Regions from separate parts of the Homo sapiens genome. Here region 2 is linked to region 1. Evidence: fine-mapped expression QTL. Tissue or cell type: cerebellum. Region 1 holds a variant in brackets; the other region holds the start of a gene. All regions are shown on one strand. Distances are between the middles of the regions.

The links. PIP is the estimated chance that this variant, and not a neighbour inherited with it, causes the effect.
Region 2: it holds the start of DPP3-DT, and the variant in region 1 is fine-mapped to the expression of DPP3-DT in cerebellum (GTEx, PIP 0.97).

Annotation. Positions count from the first base shown.
Region 1 is chr11:66,873,681-66,881,779 of GRCh38, forward strand. The region is part of intron 3 of PC (pyruvate carboxylase); the gene reads right to left. Among named protein-coding and RNA genes, the nearest start is that of LRFN4, 21 kb to the left of the region's middle. RefSeq lists enhancers at 2,873-3,373, 3,374-3,874, 4,601-5,339. The variant C/T (reference allele first, on the strand shown) is at 4,631.
Region 2 is chr11:66,475,770-66,483,868 of GRCh38, forward strand. It overlaps DPP3-DT (DPP3 divergent transcript), which reads right to left and starts at 4,480. Exons shown (of 4, transcript NR_120586.1): 1 at 4,270-4,480. PELI3 (pellino E3 ubiquitin protein ligase family member 3) reads left to right here. Exons shown (of 8, transcript NM_145065.3): 8 at 1-1,568. The coding sequence ends at 398. It overlaps DPP3 (dipeptidyl peptidase 3), which reads left to right and starts at 4,665. Exons shown (of 18, transcript NM_130443.4): 1 at 4,665-4,696; 2 at 6,424-6,701. The coding sequence starts at 6,432. RefSeq lists enhancers at 501-1,321, 1,959-2,552, 3,491-4,058, 4,635-4,804 and a silencer at 4,445-4,494.

The sequences.
Region 1 (8,099 bases):
CTAAAAAGACAGCTGCCCAGCACAGAGCCCAAGCCAAACCAGACACACTCTTTTCACCCCTGCATCTGGGCCTCATCTAACCATCTGATTCATTTCTTTCTTTTGAGACGGAGTCTCGCTCTTGTTGCCCAGGCTGGAGTGCAATGGCATGATCTCTGCTCACTGTAACCTCTGCCTCCCAGGTTCAGGCAATTCTCCTGCCTCAGCCTCCCAAGTAGCTGGGATTATAGGCATGCACCACCATGCCTGGCTAATTTTGTTTTTGTTTTGTTTCTTTTCTTTTTTCTTTTTTTTTTTGAGACAGAGTCTTGCTCTGTCACCCAGGCTGGAGCGCAATGGTGCGATCTCGGCTCACTGCAACCTCCGCCTCCTGGGTTCGAGTGATTCTCCTGCCTCAGCCTCCCGAGTAGCTGGAATTACAGGCACCCGCCACCACGCCCAGCTAATTTTTGTATTTTTAGTAGAGACAGGGTTTCACCATCTTGGCCAGGCTGGCCTCGACCTCCTGACCTCAGGCGATCCACCTGCCTTGGCCTCCCAAAGTGCTGGGATTACAGGTGTGAACCACCACGCCTGGCTGTATTTTAAATAAAGATGGGGTTTCACCATGTTGGCCAGGCTGGTCTTGAACTCCTGACCTCAAGTGGTCTACCCGCCTCGGCCTCACAAAGTGCTAGCATTACAGGTGTGAGCCACCACACCCGGCCGATCTGATTCATTTCTTAGAAAACGTTTAAAACACTTGACTCAGCCATTTTGTTTTAAGTAAGGAACATAAAAACATACTCAAGAAATGAAACAAATATTGCAAAAACCTTAGTGCCATATTACAGCCAACAACCTAGAAAAGGGGAAATAAAGACAGAAGAAAAAGAAAAGAGAAGAAACAAGGAAATAAGTAGAAGAAAGAGAAGAGGAGGAGGAGGAAAGACCCACAGCCAGGGGAGAAAAACAGAAAACCCCACTAGGGGCAGACCTTATGCCAGGCACAGTTCTAAGCCTTAGGAGTCGAGAACACAACAGTGAAGGGTTCTGCTCATGGAAGATGAATGGCAGTGAAAGGAGCAAAGAAAAGAAAAACAAGACACAAATCAGAACATTTCAGATCACAAGTGCCTGGAAGATAAGAAACAGGTGACATTTTGCGAATGATCTGGGGCGGGTGCAGGGGTTTGGGGGCTGGATATTAGAAAAGGCCTCTCTGAGGAGGGGACACAGAAGCTGGGACCTGGATGGGGAGAAGTCGGCCACGCACAGATCCGCAGAGAAAGCTCCAGGAAGAAGGGATAGCAATTGTGAAGTTCTCAGGAAGAACAGGCTTGGTGCTGTCCTGAGAGAGGGAAGTGTGAGCCCACGGCCTGAGGTGGGGCTGCAGCCACAGACAGGGCCCAGTGGTTGAGGCCTCCCTTCAGCCATGGACAGGACAGGAGGGACATGATCGATGCACAGTGGAAAGGATCTCTCTGGACTGGCGAGCAGCAGGGGCTGACAGACGACGCATGTCTGGGGCAATTCAGAGGCTGAGCTGAGAGACGCGGAGCCTCTGACAGGGGGAAGCTATGGGGGTCGGGGTGGGGCTTAGGAAACATCTGGGCTATGACAGACAAGATTCGTCGAGAGACCCCCCATAGAAAGCAAGGTAGAGGAAGAAATCCTGTATGGGTGGGTGGAGATGACTTTTCCTGCTATAAGAAGGGCAAGACAGAAAAGGCAGGGCTGGGAGTGAGGCAAGCTCACAGAGGGGGAAGAGCAGGGACAAGAACCTGGGCAGCATCACAGGGGCGGTGGTGTCTGAAGCCAGGGAGAGAACAGCCTGGGAGAAGTGGGTCAGGCCTGCGTCTTCAGGCCCACTGGAGTTGAGTCTGGCCGAGGAGGAAGAGCCAAGAAGGAGCCCAGGGGGGATGCCTGGAGGAGGGAGGGACGCACGGGTCGCTGGGCAGAAGCGAGCGGCTCTCAGGAGGATGGGGCGCGAGTTGGGCAGAGCATGACTCCCAGAGGCAGGGTAAGATGGGGGCTGGGAAGGGGCCACTGCGGTGACCAGGAGGCACCCAGGTCACACCCGGCTATGGTGAACGTGGGTAGAGTAACCTTGCTGGACTCTGGGCTCCTCCTCTTTCTAAAATATACCTTGTCCTTATTCATTGCACAGTGGAGAAACCTGGCGGACACCACGCTGACCGAGAGATGAAGGTTAATATCACTAGCACCGAAGGGATACCACACACCTCCTGATGGGGTTCCCGCTGCCGTGCACGGCCTGAATTTAATCAGGAGAAAGCAAGGGGCAAACTCAAATTCAGGGAAATTCCACAGAATAACTGGCTTGGACTCTTCAAACATGTCAAAGGTCGTGAGAGACAAAGACGCAAGAACGGTTTCAGATGAAAGGAGACCAAAGCAACAATGGTGAGAGCCACACACGATCCTGGATTGGATCCGGGTTTCTATTGCTAAGAGGACATCAGGGGACAACGATACAATTTAAATAAGGTCTGCAGGTTTGAAAGAGGATTGCGTTGATATCAATTTCCTGATCTTGATCAGTGGACTGTGGTTATGTTAGAGAACAGCCTCATTCTTAGGGAAAAACACTGAGGAACTCAAGGGTCCACGAGCACCACATCTGCAATTTACACCCACTCACATGGTTCAGGGAAAAACGGGAACAATGAAGCAAATGCTAGTATTGGGGGAACTGGGGTCAGGGGTACGAGAATTCTTTGTCTTACTCTTGCAACTTTACTGAAAGTCTGAAATCATTTCAAATTGACAAGTGAAAAGAACCATACCCACCGCTAATGCCGCTGGAGGAGATAACCTTAGGGAGTGCATGCCCCAGCACCTGCTGCTCAAGAGGTGCCGGGAGCACCAGCGAGGAGCTCAGGTGTGGAGACACCCTGCTCAGAGCAGGATGAACGTCAGACGTTATCACCCTGCTATCTCCCACATGCAGATCTACAATCCTCTAAGCCCTGCTCCAGGCGAGTTATCGGATGCTGCCCACTAGGAGGACAGGTCTTTCCCAGCTGGGAGCAGGCGGCACTGGCATCAGAGAGCAGGTGTGGGGTGTAAATCTCACCCTCCTCCTGGGCACCAAATGTCTACTCTGCTGAGCGCTGGGAAAGGCCATGTCAAAAGAGCTCAAGTTACCACATAGGGCAAAGTCAGGAAGAGGCGAGGGGAGCCTTCGGGACAAGCACAGCAACAAGACAGCAAACACAAGTGGCTCTTGAACCCACGAGAAAGCAAGAGATTCAAAATACAACCATGAGGTGCCACTCCTGCCTGGGAGCTTTGTAAATGCAGTGCTGAGCGCCAGGAAGGCCTTCAGGAGGCGGCCCGCAGGCACTGCTGAGCATCACGGCAGCTTCTCCGGGAAGCTGTTTGCAAAACTTATCAAGAGCCTTTAAGGTATTTATGCCCGGCCAGGCGCGGTGGCTCACGCCTGTAATCCCAGCACTTTGGGACGCTGAGACAGGCGGATCATTTGAGGTCACGAATTCAAAACCACCCTGGCCAACATGGTGAATCCCCGTCTCTACTAAAAGTACAAAAATTAGCCCAGCATGATAGTGGGCGCCTATAGTCCCAGCTACTCGGGAGGCTGAGGCAGGAGAGTTGCTTGAGCCTGTGAGGCGGAAGTTGCAGTGAGCCGAGATCGCGCCATTGCATTCCAGCCTGGGTGATAGAGCGAGACTCCATCTCAAAAACAAAACAAAACAAAAAAAGCCGGGCACAGTGGCTGACGCCTGTAATCCCAACACTTTGGGAGGCCAGGGCGGGTGCATCACGAGGTCAGGAGATGGAGACCATCCTGGCTAACACGGTGAAACCCCATCTCTACTAAAAAATACAAAAAAATTAGCTAGGCATGGTGGCGGGTTATGCCCCTGAGCCCAGTCATTACTATTCCAGAAATCCAACCCCAGGAAATATTCCAAAATGGGAACCAAGATGTACGCAGAAAGATGTTCAAAGCAGCATTATTTACAACAGAAAATCATGAGAAGCAATTTAAAGATTCCACACCCTGGCTCCCACAGACATTATGTAACCATTAACAATAATGTGTTTGCACAGGTTTTGATGACATGGGAAATGCTTGTGATGTAATGTGAAGCCAAGAAAATTTAATGGTAAACAACATGATCTCATGAAGTTTTTTTAAAGGAATGGCAACAACTGTAGGACTGCTTGCATGCCACCCTCCTCACTCCCACGTGCTATGGAATTGCTGTAGAGTTGTGTTTTCCTCCTTCTTTATGCTTTTCTATATTTCCATATGGAAAATTTCCATATTTTCTCCATTGGGGATGCGTTATTTATAATTAGAAAAAAAAGAAGAAATATACAGAAGGGACAGGAAGAGCTCCGCAGGAAAAGGCGAAGGGAGCTCCTGCTACACCGACTCCTTGGGTGGGAGGACTTGGCTATGTGTCTCCCAGGAGCCTAGCACCCTCCCCCTCCTCACCTGCTGGCCTGCCTATAGGTGAGCAGCCTCACAGCTGGCAGCAGCCCACTGGCACCGAGATTCTCAAACCTCCAGGGCAGTTTCAAGCTTTTTCCAGGGAGCCCCAGTCCTTTCCTCCCACCTGGGTGGGTTTACCCTGCGACCACAGGGGCACTTACC[C/T]GTGGTTTGTGGGTAAACAGGTCATTTTTGTTGCTCTCCTCCCCTGTCCACACCACACTCACTCCCCACTGCCTTTTCCATGCAAAGAAAGAGATTTCCTCAGAAGATATGCCAAAGGCCGGTCACCTCCAGAGCCTCTGGAAGGCTGCACCCTGCCCCACAGCGTGGCCACCAAGTGTCTGCTTAGCTCAGGCAGGAAAATGATGGAGTGCTGACATGTTGCCGCCCCCTCGGCGGCCCCTCTCACATACATTCTTGCATTGGATCCTCATTTTTTCTTGGTGGGTAAAGGATTCCTTAGCAGTCCCACTCCACCAAGAGCCGGAGGCTGTGGGCAGCGGGGGGCACAGGAATGCCTCCGTGAGTCCTTGTGTCCCTCAGAGGGAAGCGAAAGCAGGCCTAGACTTGAGGCCAAGAGGACTGTCCCCGGGGCACGGGAGCTCTTTGGGTGGCAGCATGCCAGGCAGATGTTTATGGAAGGGAAAAGATCAGGGCTCTTCGGCTGAAGTCAGAGCAGGGAAAAGTGGAACAGAGAGTAGCCTCCTCTGGGGCACAGCCCAGCGCAGGCCCACAGTCCACTGGCCGGGGGCTGCCCCAGCTCCATGGTTTGGGCACCTCTGAGGCCCCAGCTTTCACATCTGTAAAACGGGGTTCCACCAGCCCACCCTAAGCAGGTCATCCTGGGGGTCGACTGAGACAGTACAGCTAAAGCGCCATGCCTGGGTGACAAACATCAGCTGCTGTCACTATCTTCCCAACTCCCTCCCCTCCCAGATGAACAGAGGGCCAGGGAGGAAGCCCCCGGCCCCACACAGCTGGAAGGCCCACACACTTGCGCCCTCCCACTCGCACCATGATGCAGCTCCATGCTGACCTCCCCACAGGCCAGGCCGTCCTGGGGTGAAGGCAGCACAGGCAGCCCACCCACCAAGCCAGGCTGACCATGCACCCAATGCTTAGCAGAGTTCACTGCATAGGGGAGCCAGCAGGTGTGATGCCCACATACACTTGGAGCAAACACACAGGCCCGAGGACACCACGTGCTTTTGCCAATGCAGAAACCTGTCCCCAACATTCCTCTGCAAAGGAAGACCCACCCCAAACAAAAGTAGTTGGGAGTGTCAGGTGTTGCAGAGAGGGGGGCACCTGTCCCAGAGCACTCACCCTGTACCGGCCTTCAGTGCACAGAGGAGGGTGTCTGAGGAGCCACAGACAGCTGCTCTTCTGCCTGAGGTTACTGGCCCAGAATACAAAGTTCCCCAACACAAGGCTGCTGGAGGCCTGGGCTGCAATCAGGGGAAGGGGCAGCAGTGAGCCTAGAGGCTGTGAACCTGAGGCCTAGAAGCTGGCATGGGCCGCTGGCTGCAGGGAGGCGGGAGGTTGGGTCACGCAGAGAGTAGCTGATCCACAGCCCACAGCCTGCTCCCTCGGCCCCCTAGGGACCTGGCAAGATGATGAGGGAGGTGGTCTGAGACAGGAGGCAGTCAGAGACGGGAGGGCAGGTTTCTGTGATGGATTTGGGATGTGCTGCCGAGTGAGGCGGAAGACACGGAAATGTTGGCCAGCAGGCAGTGTGGGGCTGGGGAAGGCTGTCAGGAGCTGCTGTGAATGACGGAGGGTGAGGGCTGCACTGCTCCTTAGAACCTAGTTATGGCCCTGAAACTAAGCTCACCGCTGTGGTCACACAAGACCCCCACCACCAACCTGTCTCTCCCTGACCCGCACACAATGCCAGGCACGGATGGGGCCCAACAGACATAAAGATGAACTGAAACACCACTGCATTCCCAGGGCGCCTGCACCCTTCCTAGAACTTGGTTAACCCAGTTTTTCCTTATCGAATGGCACTGCCTTCCCAGATCTGAAACCCAGGCCTTTCCAGAATCAACATCGGCTGGGAGAAACCGCACTGTAAGATGGGCGTGGCCCCCTCACACCACCCTCTCTCCAGGAAGCAGGGTCTTCAAGGTTATGGTGGAATAAGCCGACTCTGGGTATGCTGAGCTTGAGGGGTCTGGGATGGTTCAAAGGGAGGAGCTGGGTGGGCAGACTCCCCCTGCTCCCCAATACTAGACCATTCCCCAAAGCCGAAGGGAGCAGGGGCCTCTGCACAGCACTTGGGGTATAGAAGAAGGAACCCCTGCAGCTGGAGGCACCTATGGTGACCCTCGGAAGTGGCAGCAGAGGGTGGGAGACGGCCTTCCTGAGACCCCCAGAAGCCTTGCCTCTGGTATTAATGACACTCCCGGTCCTCAGGCTGTACGAAACCAAGCCCAGACACTGGAGTATGCCAGCCTTTCAACTCACAATGGCACATTCCCAGCAAGTGCCACCAGTCTGCAGCCCTTCTGGCTGGCACCATTCCAGGCACTTCCTGCCATCTTCACAGCACGGCACAGAATAGGCGATGGCCAGGCACAGGAAGCAGGGGGCAGCAATGGCTGGGGCCAGGCTCCCTCTGCGGTCCCATGCTGCAGTCCCATGCTGCAGTCCCATGCTGCACCCTGCTTTTGGGTATTTGGTTGGTGGATGGCAATCAAGAAGTTCTCAAGGTTGTCAAGTTTGGCTGAGAAGCTTCCCTGGAAATGCAGAGGGCTTTACTAACAGAACCCACAGAGCCGTTTCCTGCTCCCTCGAGCTGAGCCGCAACTCTTCAAGGGAGGCTGCTAGAGCCCCAGGTGTGAAGGGCATTCTGGGATGCTGCCAGGGCCAGCAACCAGCTCAGGTTACAGTTACACGCCTCGGGGGATGCCACTGTCTTGCTTGCTCCTGGTGATACACACAAGCAAAGCTCTCCCTTTCTGACCTCAGAAATGGGGAAACAGTAGTGAGTGAGTGAGAGAAAAGCAACCACCATCACCCAAAGATCCTTCACCCTGTTTTCCTCTCCAGAGAGCTGACAGCCCAGAGACCCACTTGCTATTTTCTGCAAATGCCAGCTGACAGATCCCTTTTCTTGGCCTCGGGTTGTGCATAAGAGACCAAGAAATAAGACAGCTTTGACTGTCACTTGGGACGTGTAAATAACTCCTTGCAAGCAAGAATGAGCCACAGTGAAGCCAGTAGTGTGTGGGGCACCTGCTTCCTCCCCTGCTGCCTCTCGGGTGACTCCACAGCTTCCATTTCCCTCCCAGCTTCAGCTTCAGATCAATAACTCAGCATTCCCCTTCCAGAAGGGAGTCAGGAAGGCACCTACGACGACCTGCAGGCTGAGGCAGGGCGAGGGCCTGGCCGTCACCTGCCCCGCTCCTGACAGAGCTGCCGCTTCCATAGCACACAACACATACTCACTGAGCTCCACCTGGTGCCCGGCCAGTGCCAGTGGAGGAGGGCACAATGGTGGGCAGTGACCCCAGCAGAGCCTTGCTCCTTGCCAGGCAGGGGCCACTGTGGCTCTTCACGCAGACTCACTCAGTAACCCTCACAGCCCCTCATCACCTCCCTGTACAGGTAAGGGACCAGGTGCAGT
Region 2 (8,099 bases), 400 kb before region 1:
CTCTGGCCTTCCCCAGCCCAGCCCGTGGCCGCACAGCGCCCGACAAACAGCAGCCCTGGGTCTACGTCCGCTGCGGGCACGTCCATGGCTACCACGGCTGGGGCTGCCGGCGGGAGCGGGGCCCCCAGGAGCGCGAATGTCCTCTCTGCCGCCTTGTGGGGCCTTATGTGCCTCTATGGCTTGGCCAGGAGGCCGGCCTCTGCCTGGACCCTGGGCCGCCTAGCCATGCCTTTGCACCTTGCGGCCACGTCTGCTCTGAGAAGACTGCCCGCTACTGGGCCCAGACACCACTGCCCCACGGCACCCATGCTTTCCATGCCGCCTGCCCCTTTTGCGGGGCCTGGCTTACCGGCGAGCATGGCTGCGTCCGCCTCATTTTCCAGGGCCCGCTGGATTAGGCTCCCTGGGGCCCCCTGCTGCTGTGCCCACCTGCCCACCCAGGTCCCCACCTCCTGCAGCCCAGAGGGAGCTCTGCATGTGGGACACTCCCTGCTGGCACAGCCACACCAGATGGACATGTTGGATGGGCTGTGCCCTTCCCCCCAACTGTGGCCCCCCAAGGAGGTCCCCAAGATCTCCACCCCAGTCATGCTGATGGGGCCTTCAGCACCAGCTCTGTCCTGGGTCGATGGAGGAAAGCCCAGCCCCATGGCCTTGCCCTTCCTGGGGCATCCCACATCGTGCCGCCGACACTGTGTGCCCCTGGGGGAGTGAAGGGGCCAGGGGCCTTTGACCCCCAGCTTAGGCTGGCTATGCCCTGAGCCTGCCAACCCAGTTTCAGACACTCATCCTTCATCCTTCCTGCTGCCGCCCTGGGTTCCTCTATAAACCTCGCTGCTCAGCTGCCCCCACAAGTCCCACATGCCCCGCATGCGTGCAATGCCTCCAGCCCCCAAGTGAGTGGTGGGTGGGTGGCAGGCTGGGCCTAGCACTTGCTGATAGCCACTATGGGCTCGACTCTGTGCTAAGTGGTATCTGGGGACACAGAGGCAATCAGACCTGGTTCCCCCCCTGGTGGAGTTCACAGTCTAGTGGAGGACAGACTGTTAACAAATGGCAACACGGCTTCATGCGTGCCAGGATCAGAGTACAAATCAGGCTGTGGCAGGCCTCACTGGTAATGGAAAAGTGAGGGAGGCTTCACGGAGGAGGTGTCATAGGAGCTCAGCCTCAACGGCTGCTCGGAACCCTCCGAGTCCACAAGATGGGAAGCAAGTCCACAAGATGGGAAGCGTGCTCTATACAGAAGGGAGGGCCTGTGCACAGGCTCAGGTGTCAGTAAGCCAGAAATCCAGGGACAGAGTCAGGATGGCTGGAGCATGGACTGCGGGGGGAACAGAGAAGGGGGTGGAGCAAAAGGTTGGGACCATGTGACCAGGGAAGATGCTGGATGGAGGATTCTGAACCTCATTTGTGGACGGTCAGGAGTCAACAAAGGGAGGAGAGAGGACTCACTGGTCAAGAGTGTCGGCTGTGACACAAGGGCCATCATCCCTGAATGCCCACCATGTGCCCCGCACTGTGCTGATGATGATAATAATAACTACGTCCATTGAGCACTCTCCAGACACCGGGCTCTGCTTCTTGGAGGTTTTGTTATTTAATCCTCATAGTAACCCAAGAAGGGAGGTGTTGCCATTTTTGTCTCTGAGGAGATGAGGGCAGATGCACCAAGTCACACAACTAGAAAGTGGCCAAGCCAGGATTTGAATCCACAGCTGCTCCTCTCCATCACAGTGTTGCTTTCCTTCAACAGAGGTGGGGGTGAACCAAGCAGGGTTTTGGATACTAGATTGGTGGACACCCACCTGCTTCGTGCCCAGCCCTGCGCAGGGCCCCTGCAGTGGGCAAGGCCGGGCCTCTTGCAGCCCATGGTCTGCAGAGGGACCTACCCGTGCTTGTGTTGGAAGCTGGCCCCCACACCTGTGCTGGCCACCTGTACCCCAGGCCAGGATGCAGTGGGCTATTAGCCAGGCTGGAAGTGTTCAGAGGAGTGAGAACCAGGGGCTCTAGAAGGCCCAGGGAGGACCTGGAGCCTGAGCCAAGTCTTGAATGGCAGAGCATCTCCAGAGGCAGAGAGGAGTTGGGAGGGCAGCCCAGGTGAGGGGAACAGCATGGTGTGGCAGGGAACATGCCTGGTGTGGAGGGGGGCAGCAAAAAGGAATGGGGGGTAGGGAAGGTTGCTGGGGCCTGGTGGGCCTTGATTGCCATGGAAGCCAAGCCTGAACTGGATTCCTATTCATCCTGGCCACAGGTGGGCGTGTTGCTGGGGTTGCCCCAGACCATTCCTGCAGGGAGCGAGCCAGGAAGACAGGCAGACGGCTGTTCTGGAGATGAAGAGAAGAAGGCTCTGAGTATAGGCCTGACCTGGGCATCGTCCCCAATAGATGACAGAGCCTAGGGAAGTACAGATTCCAAGGGGAGGGATGGACCTGACCAAGGCCACACAGCTGGTTGCGGCCAGGGAGATCAGACCTGGGTTATTGAGAAGACAGAGGGCACCCGAATGTGATGAGAGAAGGAGGAGGGTGTGATCAGATTCTTGCTTCCAGAGCATGGCACTGCTGCAGTGGGGGTGAAGGGGAGGGTGGGGATGCTGCAGGAGGTGTGGGAGCATTCCAACTTCTCTCCCCTCAACATACACACAACACACAAAGCACTCAAAATCCAACTCTTCCAAGTTCTCTCTTCTGACCCTGTTGGGAACCAGGCAGGGGAACATTCTGATCCCATTTCCAGTGGGGAACCTCAGACCCTAGGAGGAAAGACCAGCAAAGGGCACCACAGTAGATGCTGGGGAGGATTCAGAGGTATTGGTGGAGGAGGTCAGAGCCCTGGTCTTGTCCCAGCTCTGCCTTTGCCAGCTGTTAGAGCCTCAGTTTCCTCAGTGCTAAAGGGGATAACAGTCACTACCTCGCCAGGTGGTTGTGAATATACAGAGAGCACCTGTAACACAGTTGATTCGTAACTGTTGCTCCTCACCGACCCCTTTTGCATTCCCATGGGGAAGAGCCAAGGCTGGGGAGTTATGACTCCAGTGATAGACTGCTCCATGTGAGTGACTGTGTGTGTGTATCTCTATGTTGGGGCCAGGGATATCTGAACTGTGTGGTGTTATAGGAGTCGGCGAACCTCTTAGCCTCAGTTTCCCTATCTGTACAATGGGTAAAGTGATCATACCTCAGGATTTTTGCAAGAATTAAATGAGGTCCTCCATGCCAAACTGCTAGCAAGGGACCTCAGTATATGCTCATCTTATCTGTGATCATAAAAATGTGATCACGTAGCTGGTTGGGGGGTCCTGAGAGCACTGGGGTCTTTTCCTTGCCTGAGCTGCCCCCTGCTGGCAGTGGGCAGCACTACCTCCCTTACCTGTGCACATTTCAACTTCACCTGTCAGCCAACTTTATACCCATTTTAAAGACAATGAAAACGGAGGCACAGGAAAGAAGAGGGGTGACTTTCCTAAGGACACCGACCAACTTGTTGAACTCCCCCATATAACAAGTAATCATCAAAGCTAACAGCTTGTAACACTGTTGTGTCAAGCAGGGCCTTGGGCACCTTTGTGGATGAGAAACTGGTGTCTATGGTAAGCAGAGGCTGTCTGGCCTAGACACGGGCGTAGCAAGGAGACCGTGCGGGATTTCAGTACCCAAACGCCCCTCACCCTGCGCAACTATAGGGAGCGGCACTGCAGTCAACACATCACAACTTACAATATCCCTTGGATTGGATTCAATTATTAGCCTGGTTTTCCGGTTCATAAAGCCAAGACTCCCAGACAACCTCACTCCACCCCCCAGTCTGACCCTGGGCCCTCACCACTACTCCCCATTTGGCCTAGGCCCTTCCGCATGCCCCACCCAGACCGTGGTCCCGTGAGTCCGTCCAGACCTGTAAAAGTGGACCGCGGGCCCGCCTCTGCTCTGGACTCCCTTTCGGGGCCGCAGGAGGCTTTCTCATCCATCAGGCATCTGGCAAGCACCAGGAAACTACCAGCCTGTTTGTGCTAAGGAAACTGAGGCTCGGGAATGTTTAGCGGCTCCTTCCAGGCCCGTGGCGGGTGGGTGGTGGTACAGTGAAGCAGTCGAGGCGTTTCTCCGCGCCCCTACACGGGTGGGACCACCTCAGCCCTGGCCCGATCCCACTCAACCGTAGCCCCGATTCCCGGCACCGAGAGCTTTGCAACTTCCAAGTCTCCACCCCCAGGTCCCGAGTCCCGAGAGGAAGGTGGAGCCACATTACTCCTATTGTGTAGGTTCCCACCTGCAAGAGTGCTGTCGGGTCCTCTGAGGTGAAACCCCAAAGGAAAGCGGGATCGGGACTGGGGGAGGGGGATTCCCAAGTCCCTGACACCCGCGCCGTCTCGGCCTGGGCTTGGTGACCTCGTCAGTCCCGTCTGCCGGGACTAGGCCGCGGCCAGGCCGGGCACAGCGGTACCCGGTCCGGCGCGTGTGCGGCCTGCTGACAAAAGGCCGAGCCCGCAGGGCCAATCCGCGCGCCACCCCGTAGCGCCTGGGGGCGGGAGCGGGCGAGCCGAGAAGCTCGTCTTGGCGCGTCTATTGGCTGGTACTGACGCCCATCCGGACCCCGAGGCCAGGCAGTTGGCCAAGGGGGGCGGGGTTCGCAGAGCCCCAATGAATGGGGGAGCCGGAAGCAGGAAGTGAGTTTGCGAACGGAGCAGCTGCTGCAGGTGAGGCGCGGCGCCTGGGCTTTTGGGGTCAAAGCGTGTCATCCCGGGGGACCAAGGCGAATCCATACTGAGCGCAAAATCGTTCCCTTTCTGCCCACTCTCCAGTACCCCCTCCAAATTCACCCCGCCCTCGAGGCCAAGGAGTGCTCCGGGGAGCAAAGAGTTAACAGCCCTTTCCGAACCTCGAGGCTGTGCTATTGGGGCGGGGCTTCTGGAGGCCGGGGCAGGGCGAGGAGGCTGGACACTCTGTCCCAGCCGGGACGGGGCGTGGCGGGGAGAATGCCCCGGGTTGGGGAATCCCCGGGTTCCAACGGGGCTGTCAGACCTTCAGTAAATTGTTGCCCTTTCCAAGCCTCAGTTTCCCTATCTGTAAAATGGGCTTTCTTCTGGTTGTGAACTTCTGTGGCTTCCCTGGTGGAGCACAGGGAGCGAGCAGGAGAATGGAGGGCCAAGGAAAAGGCATTTAGAGGGATGAGAATGGGACAGTTTCAAGCAAAATCATTTATTGCTGTGGATACTTTCCGTCCAGGGCGACTTCATCTGATTAGCGCACCCACCTGGTAATATTGGGGTTATTCTCTCTTTTATAGAGGAGGAAACGGAGGTACAGAAAAGTGAAGCAATGGACTTGACTTTTAGGAGTCTGGGGCCGAGTCCTGGCTAAAGGCTGAGCCTTCCAGCTGGCGGCCTGGCACTTTATCCTTGTGAGCACAGTGGAAAGTGTAAAGAATTCTGAACAAAGGCCAGGCGCGGTGGCTCACGCCTGTAATCCCAGCACTTTGGGAGGCCAAGGCAAGCAGATCGCTTGAGGCCAGGAGTTCGAGACCAGCCTGGACAAAATAGCGAGACCCCGTCTCTATCAAAAATACAAAAAATTAGCTGGGCATGGTGATGCACGCCTGTAGTCCCAACTACTTTGGAGGCTGAGGCAGGAGAATCGCTTGAACCCGGGAGGCGGAGGTTGCAGTGAGTCAAGATCATGCCACTGCACTCCAGCCTGGGCAACTAAGTGAGACTCCGTCTTAAAAAAATAATACTGAACAAGGAAGCAGGGAGGGGCCTGGGCTGGGAGCCTAGAGATGAGGATCTCTGCTGCTGATGTCTCCATTGTGGGATTAGGCAAGGCTCTTAGCCTCTCTGAACCTCAGTTTCCCCATCTGTAATACTAGGTAGTTAGAGTCAATCAATTTTTTTTTTTTTGAGGTGGAGTCTCACTCTGTTGCCCAGGCTGGAGTGCAATGGTGCGGTCTCAGCTCACTGCAGCCTCCACCTCCTGGGTTCAAGTGATTCTCCTGCCTCAGCCTTCCCAGTAGCTGAGATTACAGGTGCCTGGCACCAAGCCTGGCTAATTTTTGTATTTTTAGTAGAAAGGAGGTTTCACCATGTTGGTCAGGCTGGTCTTGAACTCTTGACCTCAGGTGATCCACACACCTCGGCCTCCCAAAGTGCTGGGATTACAGGTGTGAGCCACCATGCCTGACCTTAGAGTCAATCTTTAAGGTTTAGGGACTACAGACCAAATATGGTCCACCAGTGTATTTTGTGACCCCTTGGGTGAGTCATCTCACCTTCTCTAAGCCTCAGTTAGCATATCTGGTGAATGGGTACAATAGTATTCCCTTCCACATGGGCTTTTGGGAGGATTAAATGAGATCATAAGAGTTCAGAGCCAGGTATGCAATTGGTATGGGGTAAACAACAGCTGTGATGACAGTGATGGTTCTCAGCAGGGCCCATGGCGGACACCCAGTACATCCTGCCCAATGACATCGGCGTGTCTAGCCTGGACTGCCGTGAGGCCTTCCGCCTGCTGTCACCCACAGAGCGCCTCTATGCCTACCACCTGTCCCGTGCCGCCTGGTACGGAGGCCTGGCTGTGCTGCTTCAGACCTCCCCTGAGGCCCCCTACATCTATGCTCTGCTCAGCCGCCTCTTCCGCGCCCAGGACCCCGACCAGCTGCGCCAACATGCCCTGGCTGAAGGCCTTACCGAGGAGGAGTATCAGGTCAGTTCTCTTGGGCCAACCCACATTACCTGAGTGGCTTCTGGGTGTGAAAGACCAGGATGCAAATGTCTGTCTCTTTCAAGGGGTAGGTGGAGGATTAGACCAAAGGTTACAAATTCAGGCACTTCCCCTCTCTGGAGCCTCAGTCTTCTCACCCGTAAAATATGCATGTGGGATGTCTGTACCTCTTAGTGTTGTGATGACCCACTTAGAACAGTGCCTGACTTCAAGATAAATGATGGCTGCTGTGATTATAACAAAAGAAACTGTGGTGGAGATTCAGGGAAGGCAGAAGAAGGAGTCCAGAGTAGGTATCAGGAGGTCTGAGTTCAGGACCAGTTCTTCTCTACCACACTGTGTGGCCCTGGGCAGAATGTTCTGCCTGTCCCTTGGTTTTTGTTTTTGGATGTATTGGCCAAGTAATACACAAATTCTTAGTGCATTGCAGCAATGCAGAAAGACACAAAAGAAAACACAAAGATCACTCATTCTCAGTGCCCTCCTCAGAGGTAACCCACTGAGGCTGATACAGCCTTTTCTTTCTCTCTCTTTTTTATTTTTTATTTTTTTTTTGTGACAGAGTCTCATTCTGTCACCCAGGCTGGAGTGCAGTGGCGTAATGTTGGCCCACTGCAAACCTCCACCTCCCAGGTTCAAGCACTTCTCATGCCTCAGCCTCCCAAGTAGCTGGAACTACAGGTATGTGCCACCACACCGGGCTAATTTTTGTATTTTTAGTACAGGTGGGTTTTCACCATGTTGCCCAGTCTGGTCTTGAACTCCTGGCCTCAAGTGATCCACTTGCCTTAGCCTCCCAAAGTGCTGGGATTACAGGCGTGAACCATCGTGCCCAGCCTTGGTTACAGCCTTTTCAATCCCATCTGTGTATTACATACATTTATGTGTATATGCATGGTGAATCAGTTCCTTATTTTCTTTTTTATAGAAATGAGATAATGTTCTTTTCCTGCTTTGTGTCCTGCTTTTTCCATTGAATGCCATGTCTTGAAGAACTTGGAGAATGGGGTACATTTAAATGTACCTCATTCTTTTTTATTGACTGTAAAGCATTCCACAGCAGTGTACACTATAATCAATTTAATCTTCATTACTGGACATTTAGCTTGTCCCGTTTTTCTTACAAACAGTGCCATGGTGAGCATACTTGTGCACACATGTGAGGAGGATCTATTTCTAGAAGAACTGCTGGGTCAAAGGCTCTGTACATTTACAATTGACTGATTCTGTTAAATCATCTTCTAAAAAAGCTTCACTGCATTATATTCCCACCAAGAATGTACAAGAATATGGCCTGTTTTTCTATATGTGAAATAAAGGGATTGGATTGTTTCTCTCTGAGCTGATGTACTGTTTATTCTACCTCTTTTGAACTTTGGG